3 separate regions of the Homo sapiens genome follow, and regions 1 and 3 are each linked to region 2. Evidence: fine-mapped expression QTL. A gene starts in region 2. Each other region holds a variant in brackets. All regions are shown on one strand. Distances are from middle to middle.

Region 1 (2,749 bases), 33 kb before region 2:
GCGTTCAGGCGCGGCTTTGGACCTCCCATCCCAGTGAGATGGCATCCAACACTCACTTCCTGGTCAGTGTAGACGGAGGTGGAGGGAGGGCTGCCCCCCTGAGGATTTGGGGCAGGTTCTGAACTGACCAGGCCAAGCTGACCTGGGCTGAGAACCAGGCTGGGTGTGAAGAGATGCTCTGGGCCAGTGGTACCCTCTCCTGCCTGGGACCTTCCCCAGTGCCCCCATCCTCATGGGTGGGCCCTGTCCATCCCCATTTCTTGAGAGCTCCAGACTGTCACACCTTGACAGCGGGGAGGGTAGGGCTTCCTGTCCCTCTGGAGTCTCTCCAGCCATAGGAGCACGCTGGCAGCCATGGGCTTCCAGCACCTGCAGGGCCACGGCGGGGCCCTCGGAGCTCCTCCCAGGGGGTGAGTTCTGCTGAGTTCCTCCTGCGCCTGGCCAGGAACGGGGTAGGGAATTCCCTGTGCTTGGGACTTCCAGGGTCCAGGGCAAGGCAGGGAACAGGAACTTGGGGGTTGGGTTGAATGCTGGGGAGCTGAGGGCTGAGTGCAGGGGGGCTGCTGGCTGAGTGCTGGGGGCTGCTGGCTGAGTGTTGAGGGCTGCTAGCTGGGGGGCTGATGGCCAAGCTTCGTGATTTCCTGGTCAGCCTGCTCAGGCTGCGGAGGGGAGTGGGAGGAAGAGAGCCAAACCCACGCCTGGCTGCTCTGGGGGTCTTGGGCAGCCTCTAGCCCAGGAGAGAAGACAAGGCAGTCACTCAAGGCGCTGAAAACAACGGCCTCCTTTACTGTTAAAATGCAGCCACAGGTGCTTAGCCGTGGGCATCTCAACCACCAGCCTCTGTGGGGGGCAGGTGGGCGTCCCTGTGGGCCTCTGGGCCCACGTCCAGCCTCTGTCCTCTGCCTTCCGTTCTTCGACAGTGTTCCCGGCATCCCTGGTCACTTGGTACTTGGCGTGGGCCTCCTGTGCTGCTCCAGCAGCTCCTCCAGGTGGTCGGCCCGCTTCACCGCAGCCTGCA[G/A]CACACCCACAGGGTCAGGCCTGCTCCCAGCCCCGAGGTCCAGCAGGGCTGGCCACAGGGACTCACCTCATGTTGTGTCCGGAGGCTGCTCACGGCCTCCTCCTTCCTCGCGAGGGCTGTCTTCACCCTGTGGGTAGTACATGGTAGGCTTCAGTGTGGCCCCCGCCCCATGTCCCCAGAGTGGCCTGCAGTGCACAGGGTGCACGGGGCAGCCGCCTGGTCAGCCTGGTCCCAGCCCTGCTGACCACGACTCCTGTGGCTGGCCCAGACAGCTGTCCAGGCAACCCACCTGCTGTGAGTCAGGACCCAACACAGGCCACTGGAGTATGACCCTGGCCACACCTGGGGAGGCCTGGTACCCAGATGGGGTGGGACACCTCGCCCACACCCACCTCTCAGCCTGTGGCAGCAGATGGCACAGGAAGGATGCAGGACCCCCGTGGAGGGAGCTCGCTGGGAACCTTACAGTGCCCCAGCTCTTTCAGCGCCTGTCCACCCAGCCCAGGGCCCCGGGAGCTGACTCCCTGGAGAACTCGCCAGGCCCAGACCCGACCCACTCGGGTGCCCCAACAGGGATGGCCGACACCCTAGACTAAGCACCAGGGAGGAAAACAGATCTAGGTCTCCTGGGCCCCAAACATGGAACCCACACCAGCCTCTGTCTACAGGGCCCTGTCTCTGCATCTCCTGGCCTTCCTCAGCCACAGCCTCCTGGGGCTTGGAGCTGCAGAGGTCCTGCCCGCTCCCCTGCCCCGCCTCCGTCTCCAGCCCTGCAGCCCCCGCCGCCCACCTCCGGTGCACCTCCTCCAGCTCCAGCTGCTGGCGGGCCTGCAGCGTGGCCAGCTCGGCCTTGGCCTGCCGCGTCTCCTCCTCAGAGGCTGCCAGCCGGTCCTCGAACTCCTGGCGGATCACCTGGGCCAGGTTGCTGCGCTCGCTAGAAAGCTGCTCGTTCACCTGGGTGGGCACAGAAGGCAGTGAGCCGGCTGCCAGCGACTGGCTGCGTGCATGCAGGAGGGGCCTGTGGGTGCCCACTGCCCACCTGACACCCGCCCACTCACCGCCTGCGCATCCTCCAGCGCCCGCTCCTTCTGCCGCACAAGGCCCTGCAGACGCAGATTCTCGCCCTCGGCCTCCCCAAGCTGGCCCTTCAGCTCCGAGCACCGCTCCTGAAGCTTCCGCTCCGACTGCTCCAGCTCGGAGAGCTCGGCCTCGTACTTGTCCCGTAAGCGCTTGATGCTGGAGGTGGGGGGAGGGCAGGGTCACTCCAGCCCAGTCACACACGGGTCCTTGCGCCTCAGCTCGTGGGCCTCCCCAGCTGGTGACCCAGCCATGGCGGGTCCTTACCGGCTCTCGGCAGCCTTCTCACTCTCCTCCTTGGCCAGCGCCATGTCGGCCTCCAGCCGGTGAATGACCAGCTCAATCTCCTTGTCCCGGCCTTTCCGGATTTCTTCCCTCAGCTCCTGTTCCCGGTTCAGCAGCCACGCCTCCTGGGGGGACATGCGCTGCCTGGGGGTTGCCACCCGGAGCCGGCCCGCGGGGCCAGGGCCAGCCTCAGGGGGTCCTGGGGGGCTCCAGGCTCTGAGCCACAGGGGAGCAAGGGGCCTTCCCCCTCTCCAGACCCCTGTCCAGGGGTGCGCTACGTCCTGTTGTCAGGACCCAGTGTGGGCATAGGCGTACCAGAGATCGTCATGATGCACAGCCCACGGTCCCCTCCCTCAGAGACCCACAGCC
Region 2 (2,749 bases):
CAGAGGCCTTCCTTGAGCACCCATCACTCTTCACTCCCCATCCGGCTCGGACTCCCTTCCTGTGGCCGCACACAGTTGGTTTATGAATTGTGTGGCTCCTGAGCAACCCCAGCACCTGCAGGGAAAGGCACTCAGCTGAACCCGTAGATGAACGGGAGAAGCTGGCGCCAGGGACCAACCTCGAGAATTACCTCCCTGCCACGGTGGCCTCCAGTAGGCCAGCAGGCACCCAGCCTATCGCCCAAGGTCACCCTGGGCTTCCTTCAGCCCGGCACCCCACAGCAGGTCCCCCAAGGTCCCTTCCACGGAGCGATGGATACCCCTACTCCCTAGAGGCTGACCCTGCCACTGACCAGGTCCCAGTCCTCAGTTATGCACTTCCGGCTGTGCGGAAGAAACTTAACACCCTCCTCCTGCAGGGCACTGTCCACCCCTGGCTGGACCCATGCAAGCCCTTGGAGCCCAGGACTCTGCTCTCCCAGCCACACTTGCAAGCGGCTCTGGGATGGCGAACGGGGCCTCTCCATGGAAACCTCCAAGCCAGAAGAAGGGAGGCCTGGGAGGCCACTACATCTTGGATAAAACTGTGTCCCTCCCAGGACCTGAAGGGGCGGGGACTGATGACCAGCGCCAGGACCTGGTTCCCAGGGTGGGCTGACCCTGACCCTGACCCTGACCCTGGACAGAGAGGCCAGAGCCCACGCGCAGAGCAGAGCCCTCCACTTGTCCTCAGGGCAGCTCCCATCTCCCCATTTTCCCCAGGGCTTAAGGCAGCCGGGCCAGAGATGCCGGGACTGGACTCCATGTTGTCCTGGGGACCGGAGGGGAGTGGAGGGAGGTGGAGAGGGTGGAGGGGATGGAGGTGGGGACCCACACCCTCAGGCACGAGCCTGTCTTCACCTGCGCGGGCCCCGGACCTCCCTCACCTGTGCGCACCCTGGATCCCCCTCACTTCCCCCGGATCCCGCCTTCAATTGCGCGGGCACCAGATCCCCCCACTCACCTGTGCGTGCCCCGGATCCCCATCACTTCATCACTGGACCAGGGCCTCCCACCTGCGCGGGCTCCGGACCCCTCCAACCTCCGTGCGCCCTGCAACCCCCTCCCTTGCCCGGGCCCCCCTCACCTGCGCGGGCCGGGGGCGCAGCCGCGAAGCCTGCCTGGCGCGCGGGGCCTGCAGATTCGGCCGGCGGGGAGGGGATGCGGAACCAGTCGCGCCCAAACCTCGGGTCGGCGACCTGGCGCCCCGCCACCCCCAACACTGCCCCGAGGCCCGGTGACAATGAAGCGGCCGGACGGCCGGGGTGAGCAGCGGCGGCAGCTAGCAACCAGCCTGGCACCACCTCCCCAGCCCGTCACGCCGGCCCGCCTTTCCTGCGCGCGCCGACTCCGGATTGGCCCTTCACGCTCCCGCTCAGGCCGTCCCGGGAGCTCATTGGGCCGCTCGGCTGTCCTTCGGGAAGTTCAAGCGTGGGAGGAGCGGCGGATGGCTGAGGGACGCGACTACAGAGAGCGGCCGATTGGACGCGGCTGGAAAGGGGCGGGTCATATAGGGGGCGGGGGACCGAGGGCGGCGGGAGGAGCTGGCCGGGCAGGGGCGGGGCCCCAGCGGTTGTGGGCGGGGCGTGAGGTGGGGGTGTGATGGGCGAGTAGGGCGAGGCAGATGTGGGCGGGGCAAGGCAGGTGTGGGCGGGGCACGCAGGGCCTGGGGAGGAGACACCAGGGAGGGCGCGAGGAGCACGCGGCCTCGGCTCGGCTCCCCGACACCCCCAGGCCGCCGCACTCCCGCGGCCCGGGGCTCCCCCAGTGTCCTAGGCCGCTCTGTCCCCACCCACGTGCGCGACTCCCCTCGTTACTCAGTACGACTGCGAGGGCGTGTGGGCGCCTTGCTAACCTCCCTGACCTCCTTCCCTTCGCGCTGCTTTGTTGTTTTTTTTCCTTCTCCAAAGTTTTAACGCTGCGCCCCGTGCGTAGCCGCTCTGTGACTCCCCCTCTCTCCGGGAGCCCTGGGGATTCCGCCCAGGTCCTCTCCAGGGAAGCCATCCTTCCCCTAAAAGTCACAGCACACTGGTCTCCCCTGCCCCCGCTTTTTAAAAAGTCCAGTGCTCTGTAAAATAAAAAGTTTGGTTTCAGTAAAATCCACATTTTTTGGTGTGCAGTGGAGTTGTGTAACTTTAGTTACAGAACATTCTCCCTCCGGATCCCGTACCTGCTGACTGCTGGTGGCGGCTGCTCAGTTCTCTCTGTTCTCCATCCCTAGAGGCAGCCTTTTCCAGAATGTCACACAAAAGGGATGTCGCGCAGCGCGCCTGTGGGTCTGGCTTCTACCACTTCGCATTTTGAGATTCATGCTGGTTCCTCTTTATTGCTGAGTGGTATCCTGTAACCGGTGTGAACCACCGGTTCAGATGGTTTTATTTATTGATGGTTTTATTCATCAAATGAAGGACGCAGAGATTGTTCCTGGTGCTTGGCAATTATGAATGACGCTGCCATAAACATTCACTCATCGGCTTCTGTGTGGACACAACTTTTCATTTCTCTTGTGTAAATACCCAGGAGTGGGGTTGCTGGATCAAATGATTGTTTATAAGAAACTGCCGGCCGGGCGCAGTGGGTCCCACCTGTAATTCCAGAACTTTGGGACACTGAGGTGGGCGGATCACCTGAGGTCAGGAGTTCGAGATCACCCTGGCCAACATGGCAAAACCCCGTCTCTAGTAAAAATACAAAAAAATTACCCGTGCCT
Region 3 (2,749 bases), 26 kb before region 2:
CCAGGCCTGCATCCGCCGTCCTGTCCTCAGCTGGGGGACCCGGCGAATGTCAGAGAAGCCCCAGCCCACCCCCTGCAGTGATGTCAGGGTCTTCCTGGGATGAGGGTAGCTCTGCCGAGGCCATCACCCAGCCCTGGAGGAGGCTCACTGTCTGCCAAAGGGTGTCAGGACCACACCAGCCTCACTGCCGGCCCCAGGCCAGACCCCAGGTCAGGACACACCTGTGACAACTATCAAGCAGCCCTGGAGGCCCCTATTCTCACACACCCCAGACCAACTCTAGGTCTCTTCTCTTCAGAACAGGAGCCAACCGGGGCTGCGACTGAGCTGAGGGGCCGGCAGGACACCCCACTACACTCACACGGGGCGGCTCTGGATAAAGACAGGAGTGCCCTCTCCAGGGCATGCATGGCTGGGAATGGCATGGGAAAGGCTTGGAATGCGTCCAGCGGACACCCGTGTGACACCCAACAGAGGAAGAAGCTCCCTGGCAGTGGGAAGCCCCTGGCTCTGGAAGTCTCCATGAGCCACGCGCTGGGTCCGGGCCTCTGCGCTCCCCGGGCCGCTCACCTGGTCAATGAAGGCCAAGTGCCGCTGGATGGTGGCCTCGTAGTGCTCCCTCTGCCGCTGCAGCTGCCGGCTCAGCGCCTTCTCTGTCTCCTTGACCCGCCGGGCCGTGAGGTCTCGCTGCTGCGCCTGCAGGGTGTGGGCAGAGGAGGGAAGCGCTAGGACCGGTGGGCCTGGCCTCAGCAGGTAGGAGGCTAGCAGGGCCCGGGATTAGCAGTGCCAGCAGCGTTACCAGCGCTCTCTGCAGCAGCAGCATGGCCTGCTTCTTCTCCTCCACCTCCAGCTTCAGCCGCATCACAGACGTGCTCACCTCGGACCCCAGCTCCAGGGGCCCCGGCCCCGCCTCCGGCACCCACCCCTGCAGACACAGCCGAGCGTCAGGCGGAAGCGGCAGAGGACGGGGGGCAGCCAAGGACCTGACACGATGCCCCTGCGGCCCTGCCCTCTGGGGACAGAGGGGCTGCTGCACACGGGAGCCCGTGGGAAGCCGGAGGGCAGGTGGCAGGCGGCCCAGCAGAGGTCGTTTTCATTGCTCAGTACAGGAAATGGGGGCCGTGGCCTCAGGAATAAAAAACAAACCATTTAAAAAGTTCTATGCTGCCCAGCTTCCTGCCCTGTGACAATAAAGTTCACGTCACTGCTCCATTTAGCCTGGCCGCT[A/G]GTGTTCACCCAGGACAAACCAACCCAGAGGACAGCAGGGCTCCAGAGGGCTGAACTATCCACACATATGGGCTCGTGGAGGCAGCTCGGGGCAGCGGGTAGGTGGGGGCAGTATGGGGAATGCGGGCCCTGCCACCTCCACCCTGAGAGACCCGTGGGGGGTGCTGCATAACTAGGTGGGTACATGGTGAGGGACCACCTCCTGCTGGGGGCCGGGTGGGGGCTGGCGAGAGACCTCCTCCCCCTGGGGGCCAGGTGCGGGCTGGTGAGGGGCCTCCTCCCCCGAGGGCCAGGTGCAGGCTCGTGAGGGGCCTCCTCCCACTGGGGGCCGGGTGCGGGCTGGTGAGGGGCCACCTCCTGCTGGGAGTCCAGCTGGTCCTGCCCAGACTTCTCCATCTCGTCCAAGAAGCTCATGATGCTTTGTAGCTTGGCCTCCGATAGCAGCGTCCCATCCTCAGGAGGTTCGGGGAACGCACTGAGTTTTCCAAATTTCTCCAAGTTGTCAGCTGTCAGAGAGCTGGCGTCATCCTCCTGTGGGACAGGAGCCCAGCATCGGGGGCTGTCAGGGCAGCCTGAGGACTTGGGTTCCCCAAAGGCAGAGGTGGCAGCTGAGGCTGGGCTCTGGGAGGGAGGGTTGTGACTAAAGCCAGGAGGAGCCTGTGGCATCCCCATTTTCCCAACCCCCACAGCCACCGCATGCTCTGTGTGAATGGCGTGGGTGGACAGACTGTGCAGGGCGGGCGCACACCGTGGTCACCTCGCTGGCCCAGGCGTATCTGCCCCTGTGATGGGTCCTGGGGCGGGGCAGCACGTCCGGCTCCTTCTCCAGCAGCTGCAGTGTGTGCAGCAGCTCCTCCAGTGGCCCCCTGGACTTGGCGCTCCCCCTGCTCGGGGCCATCATCTCCAGGTTGTCCCCAGCTGCATCCTGGGCAAGAACGTCCTGCAAAAGAGCAGGGAGACAGATGCAGCAAGGCTGCTGGTAGCTGAGAGCAGCCCCCACATAGGAGGCCAACCGCAGAGCCCCAAAGGCGCCGCGGGAGCTCCCCAGTCCCGACATTCAGCCCCAGGAAGGTGAGGCCAGGGCTCAGACCTTCCCACCCGGTCTCTGCAGCTGCTCAAACCCAGAGCAGCTCCAGCCACCAGGGGACTCCTCCCAGTGCCCCACTCCAGGAAAACAGGAGTGCAGCCACCTGGCCCCACCATTGAGCAGCCTGGGAGCCTTGGCTGTCAGGTCACCCCTCAGAGCCGGAAGCTCCTCTTTTGTGGATGAGGATGCAAGGCCCCCCACCCCAGGACATCTGCAAAAACCCAACTGGATCCACCCCAGCAAAGGCTCCCCAAGAGGCAGCCAGCACCATGCATCAGAGCAAGAAGACACCTCCTGGGTGGCCTCTCTGAGCTTAAGTGGCCCCTAGAGCAGAGGAGGGGCTGGGAGAAGCTCAGCTCAGGACACCCCTGGCACAGACATGGCCCTTAAAGCCAAAAACCATGATGGAGTGAAGGACAGCTGTGCTCAGACCTG

Evidence for each region.
Region 1: its variant is fine-mapped to the expression of CEP131 in whole blood (TOPMed, PIP above 0.99). The same link has a PIP of 0.9 or more in caudate, cerebellar hemisphere, cerebellum, cerebral cortex and putamen.
Region 3: its variant is fine-mapped to the expression of CEP131 in sigmoid colon (GTEx, PIP 0.99).

Annotation. Positions count from the first base shown.
Region 1 is chr17:81,188,831-81,191,579 of GRCh38, forward strand. It overlaps CEP131 (centrosomal protein 131), which reads right to left. Exons shown (of 26, transcript NM_014984.4): 22 at 2,363-2,505; 23 at 2,077-2,254; 24 at 1,809-1,972; 25 at 1,085-1,145; 26 at 766-1,013. The coding sequence ends at 939. Among named protein-coding and RNA genes, the nearest start is that of AATK, 24 kb to the left of the region's middle. The variant G/A (reference allele first, on the strand shown) is at 1,019.
Region 2 is chr17:81,221,643-81,224,391 of GRCh38, forward strand. It overlaps CEP131 (centrosomal protein 131), which reads right to left and starts at 1,323. Exons shown (of 26, transcript NM_014984.4): 1 at 1,127-1,323. RefSeq lists enhancers at 1-354, 355-1,024, 1,025-1,694 and silencers at 1,056-1,385, 1,546-1,915.
Region 3 is chr17:81,196,131-81,198,879 of GRCh38, forward strand. It overlaps CEP131 (centrosomal protein 131), which reads right to left. Exons shown (of 26, transcript NM_014984.4): 11 at 2,747-2,749; 12 at 1,985-2,167; 13 at 1,582-1,758; 14 at 800-925; 15 at 571-696. Among named protein-coding and RNA genes, the nearest start is that of CEP131, 25 kb to the right of the region's middle. The variant A/G (reference allele first, on the strand shown) is at 1,228.